Regions from separate parts of the Homo sapiens genome. Here region 1 is linked to region 2. Evidence: fine-mapped expression QTL. Tissue or cell type: lymphoblastoid cells. Region 2 holds a variant in brackets; the other region holds the start of a gene. All regions are shown on one strand. Distances are from middle to middle.

Evidence for each region. PIP is the estimated chance that this variant, and not a neighbour inherited with it, causes the effect. A credible set is the group of variants that fine-mapping cannot tell apart.
Region 1: MROCKI starts here. The variant in region 2 is the best candidate, but not a certain one, in a credible set for the expression of MROCKI in lymphoblastoid cells (TwinsUK, PIP 0.81).

The regions. Positions count from the first base shown.
Region 1 is chr6:113,870,612-113,876,007 of GRCh38, reverse strand. It overlaps MROCKI (MARCKS cis regulating lncRNA promoter of cytokines and inflammation), which reads left to right and starts at 2,661. Exons shown (of 3, transcript NR_038863.2): 1 at 2,661-3,014; 2 at 5,274-5,339. LOC124901382 (a long non-coding RNA gene) reads right to left here and starts at 2,603. Exons shown (of 3, transcript XR_007059716.1): 1 at 2,185-2,603.
Region 2 is chr6:113,848,166-113,853,561 of GRCh38, reverse strand. No RefSeq gene overlaps it. Among named protein-coding and RNA genes, the nearest start is that of MARCKS, 6.5 kb to the left of the region's middle. The variant C/TAC (reference allele first, on the strand shown) is at 3,144.

The DNA of each region.
Region 1 (5,396 bases), 22 kb before region 2:
TTTAACTACTTTGATAGTTAGAAATTCTGCCTTGGATTCTTCTAACACTTTTTCTTCACATTTAAATTTTGTTGTATCTTTTAACACTTAAATCTTCTCTGAGATATGAATTTCCTTTTTTAGGTCATTTTCTGTTATATTTAATTATGTTTAAAATCTTGCCTATTGCCTGTGTGCTTCTCAAGGGCAGGAAACCTGTCTTTTTCATGGCTGTGTCCTGAAAACCTAGCACAATGGATCATATATAAAACACTCTCAGTAAGTATTGATACCATATGAAATAAACTTTAGGCCTGCACTGGGTTCCAAAGATAAAGGCACTCTTTCTGACATCATCTGGGAGGAATTTGTTGACCACGAACAAAGAAGCTACATTTTGAACAAGCATGTTTGAAACTCTAGAACTTAAGGCTCAGCAATACAGAAATATTTTTGAGTCTTTTTTCTCCAGCTATATTTACTGTCTACCATGTGTGACTTCTCTCTCTTCTGATGCTAATTAATTAATACCCCACACGCCAAACCCTTATTTACCACCCTGCACACACAGATCTCCATTAGAAGTCTGGAATGTTGATGGTTGGGTAGGTATTTTAACCTAGCTTAACCTCTATCACAATAATTAATTTTAATTGCTTTTCACCTTGGTTACGTGATCCCCCAACTCCATGGAAATGATATAACCTTGTAAAAAATAAAAAATAATAATAAAAATCTTGACATGAGCTTCTTAAAGAAACAGACGTGAGATTTGACTTTAGCATTCAGTAACCAAAGGTATAAGATACCCAAAACAAAGGAAATGTGGTGCTTTCACTGCTTGTTTTTAGTGCTGCCACTTCTCTCCCAAGGAATGTCGCTGCCTTAAACTCTGTTCTGTGGCAGATACTTCCTGCCCCTATACATCACCTTCAGATGTACTATATGATCAAGATCTTTACCATCTGGCCACTCCTCTAGCTCTAGTGTTCCAAATGGCTTACATTTTTAATGGTTCTTTGTGATCTCCCTGATATAGAAATACAGGTATGCAAGGACATGTGCACTCATAAAGAGTCTATCTTCCTTCTTTGCATTCCTGTGTGCTTTAGCCAGAAGAGATGTTTTAGGATGGTGGTACAGTGAGAAATTTATGAAACAAGGGCCACTGGGCCACCAAGATGACTATTTATGGTTAAGTGGAATCCAAAAGGATGATATGGGGTATCTCTTTCTTTACAAGTAGTAGCCACTGCCATTGAACAAATATTTAAATAATACAAACAATTGTTAATAATTATTTAGCTCCTCTTAAATGAGTCACGTGTCCCCTTTCCATGTATAAAAACCGTATTTATACTTTGTGTTTCCCTTGTGCTACTCAAAAGATCACAATAAAAACATTCTCTTGAAAAATTTACTTAGTTTATTTCACTGACTTAAAAAAAATTTTTTTTTACTGCATTTTATGCTAGATTCACACATTTCACATGGTGGTTGAACATATAAGGAAAGATATATTTTTACCACGGCTTGATAACATTTCTTCAAGATGCTATCCTCACAACAGATTATATTTATTCAGAAAATTTGAAGTGATCTATTTGAAATTACCTCTAGTAGTTTGTTAAAATGTAACAGATCCATTTATAGACTTTTAAAAGATGGAATTTTTATAAAGGTACAGTTGTTTGTTTGTTTTTTAGACAAAGTCTTGTTCTGTCACCAGGCTGGAGTGCAATGGCACGATCTTGGCTCACTGTAATCTCCACCTCCTGGGTTCAAGCGATTCTCCTGCTTCAGCCTTCCGAGTAGCTGGGATTACAGGCGTGTGCCACCACACCCAGCTAATTTTTGTAAAGATGGGATTTCACCATGTTGGCCAGGATGGTCTTGATCTCCTGACCCATTGATCCACCCACCTCAGCCTCTCAAAGTGCTGGGATTACAGGCGTGAGCCAACACGCCTGGCCAAAGGTACAGTTATATGTGAGTTATACAATAGATTCCCAATAGGGTAAGACCCTGGGGGAGTAACATCACTAGAATCCGATGTGTCCATCTCAAATAGTTTTTTACTGAATTGATTATGTCTCAATAATATTTTGGAATCTTGATAAAAACTTACTTGGCTAAAGTATACCATTAATATAAATAAACAATATAAATATAATATAAATAATATAAATAAACAATGGTATTTACCATATTACCTTTACCATGTGTATTTGTATCCAAAACACACTCATTTATACCATATCAAGGCATAGCAACTCCAGTTTGTTTGAAGAACATTACTTGATAAACAGCAACGAAGACAGAAGAGTTGATGGAAATTCTGATATTACTACCACCTCCTTTCCCTACTATTGCCCTTGTAAAACACAGAAATAGTTTGTTCATGTGACCAAATTGAAGTCTTCTTTCACTCAGGAATATAGAATATCCAACATGCGTTGTGGTGCTTTAAAGATGGTCAAAATTCTTTGACATTATCTCATCAAGAGGTGGTGTCAATGTCCTTCTTTCCCAGAATCTGGGTGGGCTCAGAGACTGCTTTGACCAATAAAGCATAGTGGAAGTAAAACTGTGCCAGTGTCTCGGGCTCAGGCTGAAAGAGACTGGCAGCTTTCACTTCCTGTCTTTTGAAAGTCTCTTGAACTTCGGACCTGGGGGAAGCCAGCTGCCGAGTGAGAAGTCTGACTATCCGGAGATGGCGGTGAGTATAGAGAATTTCTGCTAGGTCTCCTGTGTTTCAGCCATCCCAGCCCAGGCACCACGACACATTATCAAAGGACTATCTTGGACCTTCTCATCCCAGCAAACATCCAATGGAGAAGAATGAAGACTCCAGGCATATGATCCCACTCTAGCCATCCCAGGAGCCCCCAGCTATCCAAACAACTACAGCTGTGGCCAAAAACATCGTGTATCAGGGACAAACTCTCTGCTTATGGCTGCTCTAATCCTTGACCTACAGAATCATGAAATTTGTGGATACGGTCATGATCTTGATTTTGGCGATGGTTTCACAGGTGTGTACCTATGTATGCTTATCAAAGTGTGCACTTTAAAATGTGCAGTTTATTATATGTCAATTATATATAAAGCTGTTCAAAAATTTAAAAATAATTGTTGTTTTATACGACTGAGTTTTCAGGTGGTTTGTAATATGACAATAGATAACCTGAACATGCACTTCCTATGTTTTATGTTTATTTCTTCCTGATATTTATTAAAATAAAAATATTATTAAAATACAAACTTGGCATATAAAACTTTACTAGGTATATTAAGTACTTTTTTTACAAAATTCAATTTGTTTTTATTAAATGTCTATAATCTAGACTATAGATTATACAGTCTAGATTATAATCTAATCTATTATATAGATATAATAGATTAAATGAGTTGGCTTTAAAAAATCACATTATGGATTATTATTGATAATATTAGTATTGTTTTTTACTGAAGTGAATTTCTTACCAGAACAGATTCTAGGCATTTGCACATTCACTCTTAAGTTTCTAGATCCAAGTCCATTCCCTAGAACATATTAGATATTCAATAGGTGTTTGGTAAAAATATAAATGAAATATGGAATAAAATCTAAACCTTTTCTTTTGTTTTAATATCTTTATCTAGTATATCTTAGTTTAAATGTATTGCAAATGATTTCAGGACACCAGTGTCTACCTGAGCTAGATTGCTCTCAAGTTTTAGTTTAATATTCAACCAAAAACGCACATTATAAAACAATGTACCTTCTTTTACAAAAAGTTTGCATGTGATGGAGCCAGGTCCCTTTGAGTCCAGCACCTAAGTGTCTAATCACTAATTCATCCTCGTGACCCCAACAGGAAATAGCATGACCTCAAGTCTAACTGACAGGAATGAGACCTACAGAAGAACAAAAAAGGAAGAAAAGTTAATAATCTTTTTTCTGTCCATTTTCTTCTTTATTGTAGGTCAGATGTACGTGATGGTTACCATTATAACTACATACTATGAAAGATTAATCAGTGGAAAAAAACAAGTTAAAGACACACAAAAAACTTCAGAGAATCAACTTCTGGTCAAAAAAGCCCTCCTTTAGCCAACTCTAAACCTCATTCAACCAATATTCTCTATAGTCTTAGAAAGCATTCAGAAGACATAATATTTTTTAAGGACTTCAAGCAGCAAATGGCAGAAGTGACAAGAATTGAAAATAGAGGAAAATTTTGTTTTGTTTAAAGAATTCTAATTTTAATAATGGGAAGTATGCATCCATATTTATGCCAGATTCATATATATGAAATATATATATATATATATATATATATATTTCATGTAAATGTACTTTTGCTAATGAAATAGGAATTCAGGACAATAAGAAGGTCTAGAGGAAGCACCCTTTATGAGTAATTGGTTTCAATGTTCGTATTCTTGATCTAAACAATAAAAAATCAAAACTGCATTTTCTCAATGAATATGTTTTTCTCTGTTTTAAGTCTCAAGAAGTTATGGTAGAAATGCTTTACAGAAAATATTTTTCAAGCCCGGCATGGTGGCTCATGCCTGTAATCCCAGCACTTTGGGAGACTGAGGCAGGCAGATCACTTGAGGTCAGGAGTTCAAGACCAGCCTTTCCAACATGGTGAGAACTTGTCTCTACTAAAAATAAAAAAAAAAATTAGCCTGGCATGGTGATGCACACCTGTAATCCCAGCTACTTGGGAGGCCGAGGCACGAGAATCACTTGAACCCAGGAGGTGGAGGTTGCAGTGGGCTGAGATGGCACCACTGCACTACAGCCTGGGTGACAGAGCAAGTAAGACTCTGTCTCAAGGAAAAAAAAATCTTTTTCATATGATAATACTACAGCTAGAAAGCTAGAATTCTTTCTTACTGATTGTTATATTAAGTCCTTCCTGTTCACTAAACATTACTAAGCATGAAAAAAATCTTTGTGCTGTGGTAAGAATGCTGAAAAATGTATAATTCAAATCCAGATATATGAATAACAACTTCTCACTATAGTTTGGAAAATAAACTAGTATTGGTATATTTTTTGTTTGTTTTAAATAAACTCATCACTGGAGTTCTAGTAAATTTTGCTTCTAGACCATGTGAAAATTTTAAATTAGAAGCTATATAGCAACTAATTTTTTAAATTAACATAAAAATTCTCATTTAAAATGTTCTGAAAATTTTTAAACATATGCAGTTGCTGTAATTTAATACATTCCTCTGTCTTCTACTGTCACTTAATACATTTCTCTGTCTTTTCTGTATCCCTTGTTTCCCGGCAGTAACTCATGCTTTCAAAATATCAGGAAGCAAATGAGAAAAGGAAAAAAAGACATTCATTGTATATGGTAAGCCAAGTAATGAACTAGCTAGATAGTACCTCAGACACTGGAGGAAAATGGCAT
Region 2 (5,396 bases):
CTCCTATCATGTAGTAGGCATTTGGGATATGTCAGTGAACAAAACAGACAAGAAGTCTTTATAAAGCATACATTCTTGGGTGGGGAGAAAAGCACAAGTTAAAAAAATGTAAGTCAGCAAATTATATGAAATGTTAGAAGTCTGTAAGTGTTGTGGGAGAGGTGGAGTGGTGGGGGAAACTAAAGCAAAATAAGGGAGATGGGAGTTCAGGGGAGAGTTGAGATGTAATTCCATATAGGCCGGGAAAGGCCTCATTGAGAAGACAAACTTCGAGCAGATTTGAAGAGGTGAGGGAATTAATAATGCAGATGGCTCACTCAAATGCTTCTAGCCTAACAAGAGAGGGGAGAAGCCAGCATTTAACAATGAGATCACAGACTGAAATATAACTTTAAACCGTCACATGTACTTTTAACGAAAATAGGGAGTACATGTGACCATTTGAAGTTCTATTTTGTGCTATAAGATAGTATAATTTCATTAGGAGGGTTAAAGAAGGCCTTTTGAAATAAGTAACATTTAAGTGGGAACCTAAGGGAAGAGTAGGCATTAGTCAGGTAAAGAGGTGAAGAGCTGTGTTCAGATGGAGGAAATAGCAAAGCCCATGAGGAGGAAGAGTTCAGCATGGATTTGGGAGGAAGGTAGAGAGATGAGTTAGAACATATTTTCAGATTCCTGTAAAACGTCTCAGTAGAAGAGTGAAGTTCACAGATGTAAGTCTGAAGTTCAAACTACAGTTTTGAATGTAAATACTGATTTGTGATCATTCCACATGAAAATATTTTTAGAAGCCAAGTCACAGGAAAATGCAAAAGATAAGAGATTACAGAATGATGCCCTGAGTAATTTCTGCTCTCAGAGGATCCGTAGAAAAGGAGCCAAGATGGCAAAGAAGACTGAGAAGGAATTCTCAAAGAGTAGACAGAAAGCCAGGAGAGTGTGGGGTCAGGAAAGTCAATAAAGACAGTGTTTCAAGGAGGAGTAGTGAGTTTTGTCAAATGCTGTTGAGTGTTCAAATGAAATACTGAGATGTTTCCATTGCATGTTGTAGGACAGAAACTACTGGATACAGGCTCCAGAGCAGTTTTTGTAGTATGTTGAGAGTGGAAGCTGGATTTCGTGTGTTGAGGATAAAATGGAAGATGAAGAAGATGATGGCATAGTCACCTCTTTATAAAGCTGGACTCAGTAAAGGTTTAGGGAGACAAGGCAGTAGCTGGAGAGGGCTGGGACGGGTTGAGCATCCCTGATGGGAACATCTGAAATCCAAAATCTGAAATTTTTGAGTGTTAATATGACACCACAAGTGGAAAATTCCACATCTAGCCTCATGTGAGGGGTCATGGTAAAAACACACATACATGACACACAGTTTATTCAGTGTCTCCAAGGAGAAAAAACATCCCCCCAGCCCCTGTCAGCTGCAATATATGTTTTCTTTGCACGTCCAGATTCCCCCATGCAAGCACACCACAAAGGGTACTAAAGTAGTTCAATGTACACAAATTTTTTTCACAATGTACATAAATTTCAATGTACACAAATTTTGTTTCATGCACAATATTATTTAAAATATTGTATGAAATTATATTCAGGCTATGTTTATAAGTATATTTGAAACATAAATAAATGTCGTGTTTAGACTTGGGTTCTCATCCCCAAGATATCTCATTATGTATATGAAAACATTCCAAAATTCAAAAAAATCTGAAATCTGAAACACTTCCGGTCCCAAGAATTTCAGATAAGGAATGCTCAACCCACTTAATGTTTTTTTGGCTTGTGTTATGCTGTCTTGGATGGAAGGCATCAGAGCACATTTAACTGATCTGGAAACTAATACAGTAGAAAGGAAAATGAAGATACAAGAGGAAAAGGAATAAAGAATGGAAAAACATTTCTGAGAAGGCAGGAAGGGATGGGGATATAGGGCACATGCTGAAAAATTGGGTTTTAAAAGACATTCTGCTTTTTAAAATATTCTGTAATGAGAGAACAAGAGGATGGCTATAGATTTGCTGGTGGGAAGATGAGAAAGTTTCCCTCTGATGGTTTCTATTCAGCTAAGAGGAAAGAAGAAAAGGGAGAGTTGCAGTTTGATGACCTTATAGAAGGTGTGGAATAATGACTGGGAGGCATAGGATTGAGACTTTTGGGCATGGTAAGACTTTAGAGCAGTAATGAGGGCCCATTTGAGGTTGATAAATCTCAAGGATGCTTAATCAATATATCAAATATATCTTTCTACATCCTCTTTAATATTACCAGCCATTCACTCTTTTAACCTATGCCCAATTTTGTTATATCTATAAGTCAATATTTGCACAAAAATAGAATATAGATTAAAAGACAGTGCTATTACAAAGCACAATGTCAGTTAATCCTATATTATTTCATACAGATATACATAAAGAGGAGGAGGGAGGGAAGATAACCTACTCTGTACCAGGGACAGCACTGTGTGAGTCCGCTAGGCTTGTGTTTCACCCTTCCAACAGAACCTGAACTTGTATCATTTTCCCATTTTACAGATTTGGAAATTGATGCTCAGGAAGGTTTGGAAAATAAAGTTCAATAGTGTGTTAGCCGTTGTTCATTGAAGTCTATCTGCCATCTAGGAATCCAATAAGAGCTCAAATGGTTGTAATAGGCACAGAACCTTATATGTAGTTGGAGTTTTTTTTTTAAATTAAAAAATAGAGACAGGGTCTCACTATGTTGCCCAGACTGGTCCCGAACTCCTGGGATCAAGTGATTCTCCCACCTTAACCTCTCAAAATGCTGGGATTACAGACATGAGCCACTGCCCCCAGCCTGTAGTAGGAGCTTTATTAGTTTTTAAAATTGATACTAAAACTGCAAGCTTCTTTACTTTTAGACTTTGCTTTAGTGCTCTTTATTAACTATCCAGTAGTACTCAAATAGAAAGATTCTTTCATAATTAGGAAACATCAGAGTCACTGCTTATCTGTCTGAAGAATCAAGAACTAACACATCTACAACAGGAGTGATGTTTCTGGCATGTTAGATCTCCACATGGTCGGAATAGGTGATCACTACAAAACCACTATAAAGAAGAGTGTATTTTTTGGTTATTGCTATTCAGGCACACCAATTGAAATAACCATACATATATATATATA[C/TAC]ACACACACACATGCACATGTATATACATATATGTATACACACACATATATACATATATACACACATACACATATATATATACATATACACACATACACATATATATATACATATACAAACACACACACACACTCAGATATATATATATTCTTTTTTTTTTTGAGACAGGGTCTTGCTCTGTTGCCCAGGCTGATCTAACTCCTGGGCCCAAATGATCCTCTCACCCCCTCCCCAGCCTCCCCAGTAGCTGGAACTATAGGCATATACCACCATGTCTGGCTAATTTTTGTATTTGTTGTAGAAACAGGGTCTCCCTATGTTACCCAGACTGGTCTCTAACTCCTGGGCTCAAGCAAATCTTTCATCTCAGCTTCCCAAAGTGCTGGGATTACAGATGTGAGCCATTATGCCTGGCCAAGATTTTTTAATATTTGAAAGAGTAATCAAAAAGTAGGACTTAATATTAGAGACAAATAAACAAAAAGTAGGAAAATCTTTAAAGAAAAAGTTTTCTCCAGAAATTTTGAATCAAAGCTTAACCATAGTAGCATTTCTCAAAATTTGCAATATTTATCCTCCAGGGACAGGCTGAAAACTTTCCATATAAGCTTTTGGAAGAATGGAATGAAGGTGGAAGATTGGGGAGGGCACGGGGATAATTCCCTTTCCAACTTTGTTCTCAGAGATAAGAGGCAAGTAAATAAAGAAAAGCAATCAAAGTTTTCATTAAAAGGATCAGGCGATCAGGTTCCTGGTCTTATAGAGTTACCTAGTCACTTTTCTCATTGTTCTTAACTGGCGGACCAGAAGTGGAGGTAAAACATTCACATAGAAAAAGTTGAATCTTCAGCATGATGAGTATAGGGACCATACAAGGGGCAATTTTTCATTGCTTCCTTAGTCATAAATACTTTCTGATATTAAAAAGGAGACTTAAACAGTGGCTGAAATGAGCTATTTGAACTAATCTATGGTTCTAGAAATTAAAGCATAAAATCAAACACTTATCTTTATTCCAAATAACAATGCACTTTTAGAAAAAGATGTATTAAACTCTTAGAAATAACTTGTTGCAATCAATAAATAGAAAGTTTTTATTAAGCTACTGCTAAAGTAGAACTTTAGTAAGGGCCCCTCCAGTCTGACGGACTTTTCAGTGCCTTCAACACTCTATTAGGTTTTGTGATGAGATGACTGGGAAGGATTTCATTTGCTCAGCAGATATTTATTAAGTACCTACTTTATACCAGGCACTGGCATACAGTGATTTGCCTCCATTACATATTTGAATCCCTACAGTAATCTTATAAAATAGAAACCATTACTCCCATTTTCTTTGTAAATCAAATCCCTGAGGCATAACATAACATGCTCAAGTTTATGCTGCTCATGAGAGTGGTCTGGACTGGGTTCTCAGTCCAGCTCTTGATAATTCCAAAGCTGTGACGCTGTTTCCCTGACTATATCATACTGCCTCAGATAAAGTTAAGAATTTTATGGGATGTTTCTAGTTTTTGTGAAGGTTACAAAAATGATCAAGATACACTAAAAATTGTCTGAAATATATTAAATATTAAACTTTATCTGTTGTAAGAGAAGTATTTAGGGCTACATCTGCAAGGTGGGAATTAGCATTCAAAGAAACACACACACACACAAACAGAATCTGACAGGTCAGATTCTTGAATCTGGAAACATCCTTAGTAACTTTATCCAGAATATTGTCATCACAAAACATATTTTTGGACAACTGAATAAAAACATAAATGGTTAAGTTGTGCCAAAAACTTACCTCTACCTTTCCTGGGGCAAAAGTGTGAGTGTTGCTTAGAGCAGAGTGAAGCTTTTTGGAATGTAGGTAAAGTAGGGTGTAGAGAAAGGGAGAGAATGTTACAGTTGGAAAGAGAATCCAGATGTGAGATGTGGCTGAGAGATGAGATCAGAGATAAGAAGGTACAGCCCTTCACAGTGCCACTGTGAGAAAACTGTAAGGATTCCTGGGATGGAGGGGACTCATGGCTGAGAATGTAGGGAGTGATGAAAATGTGACATTCTTCCATTAAGGCTACAGTTGGAATTTGATTTACATTTTGATTGTAGGTGTAAATACTTGACAGTTTTAAAATTTCAATCACTATTGTATATATTATTTCATTTAATAGCCACAGTAAATTCAGAGATCAATTAGATCAATTAGGTGAATTCCCAGTTATAAGGCTGTTAAATAATTTGCTTAAAATCCCAACTACAGG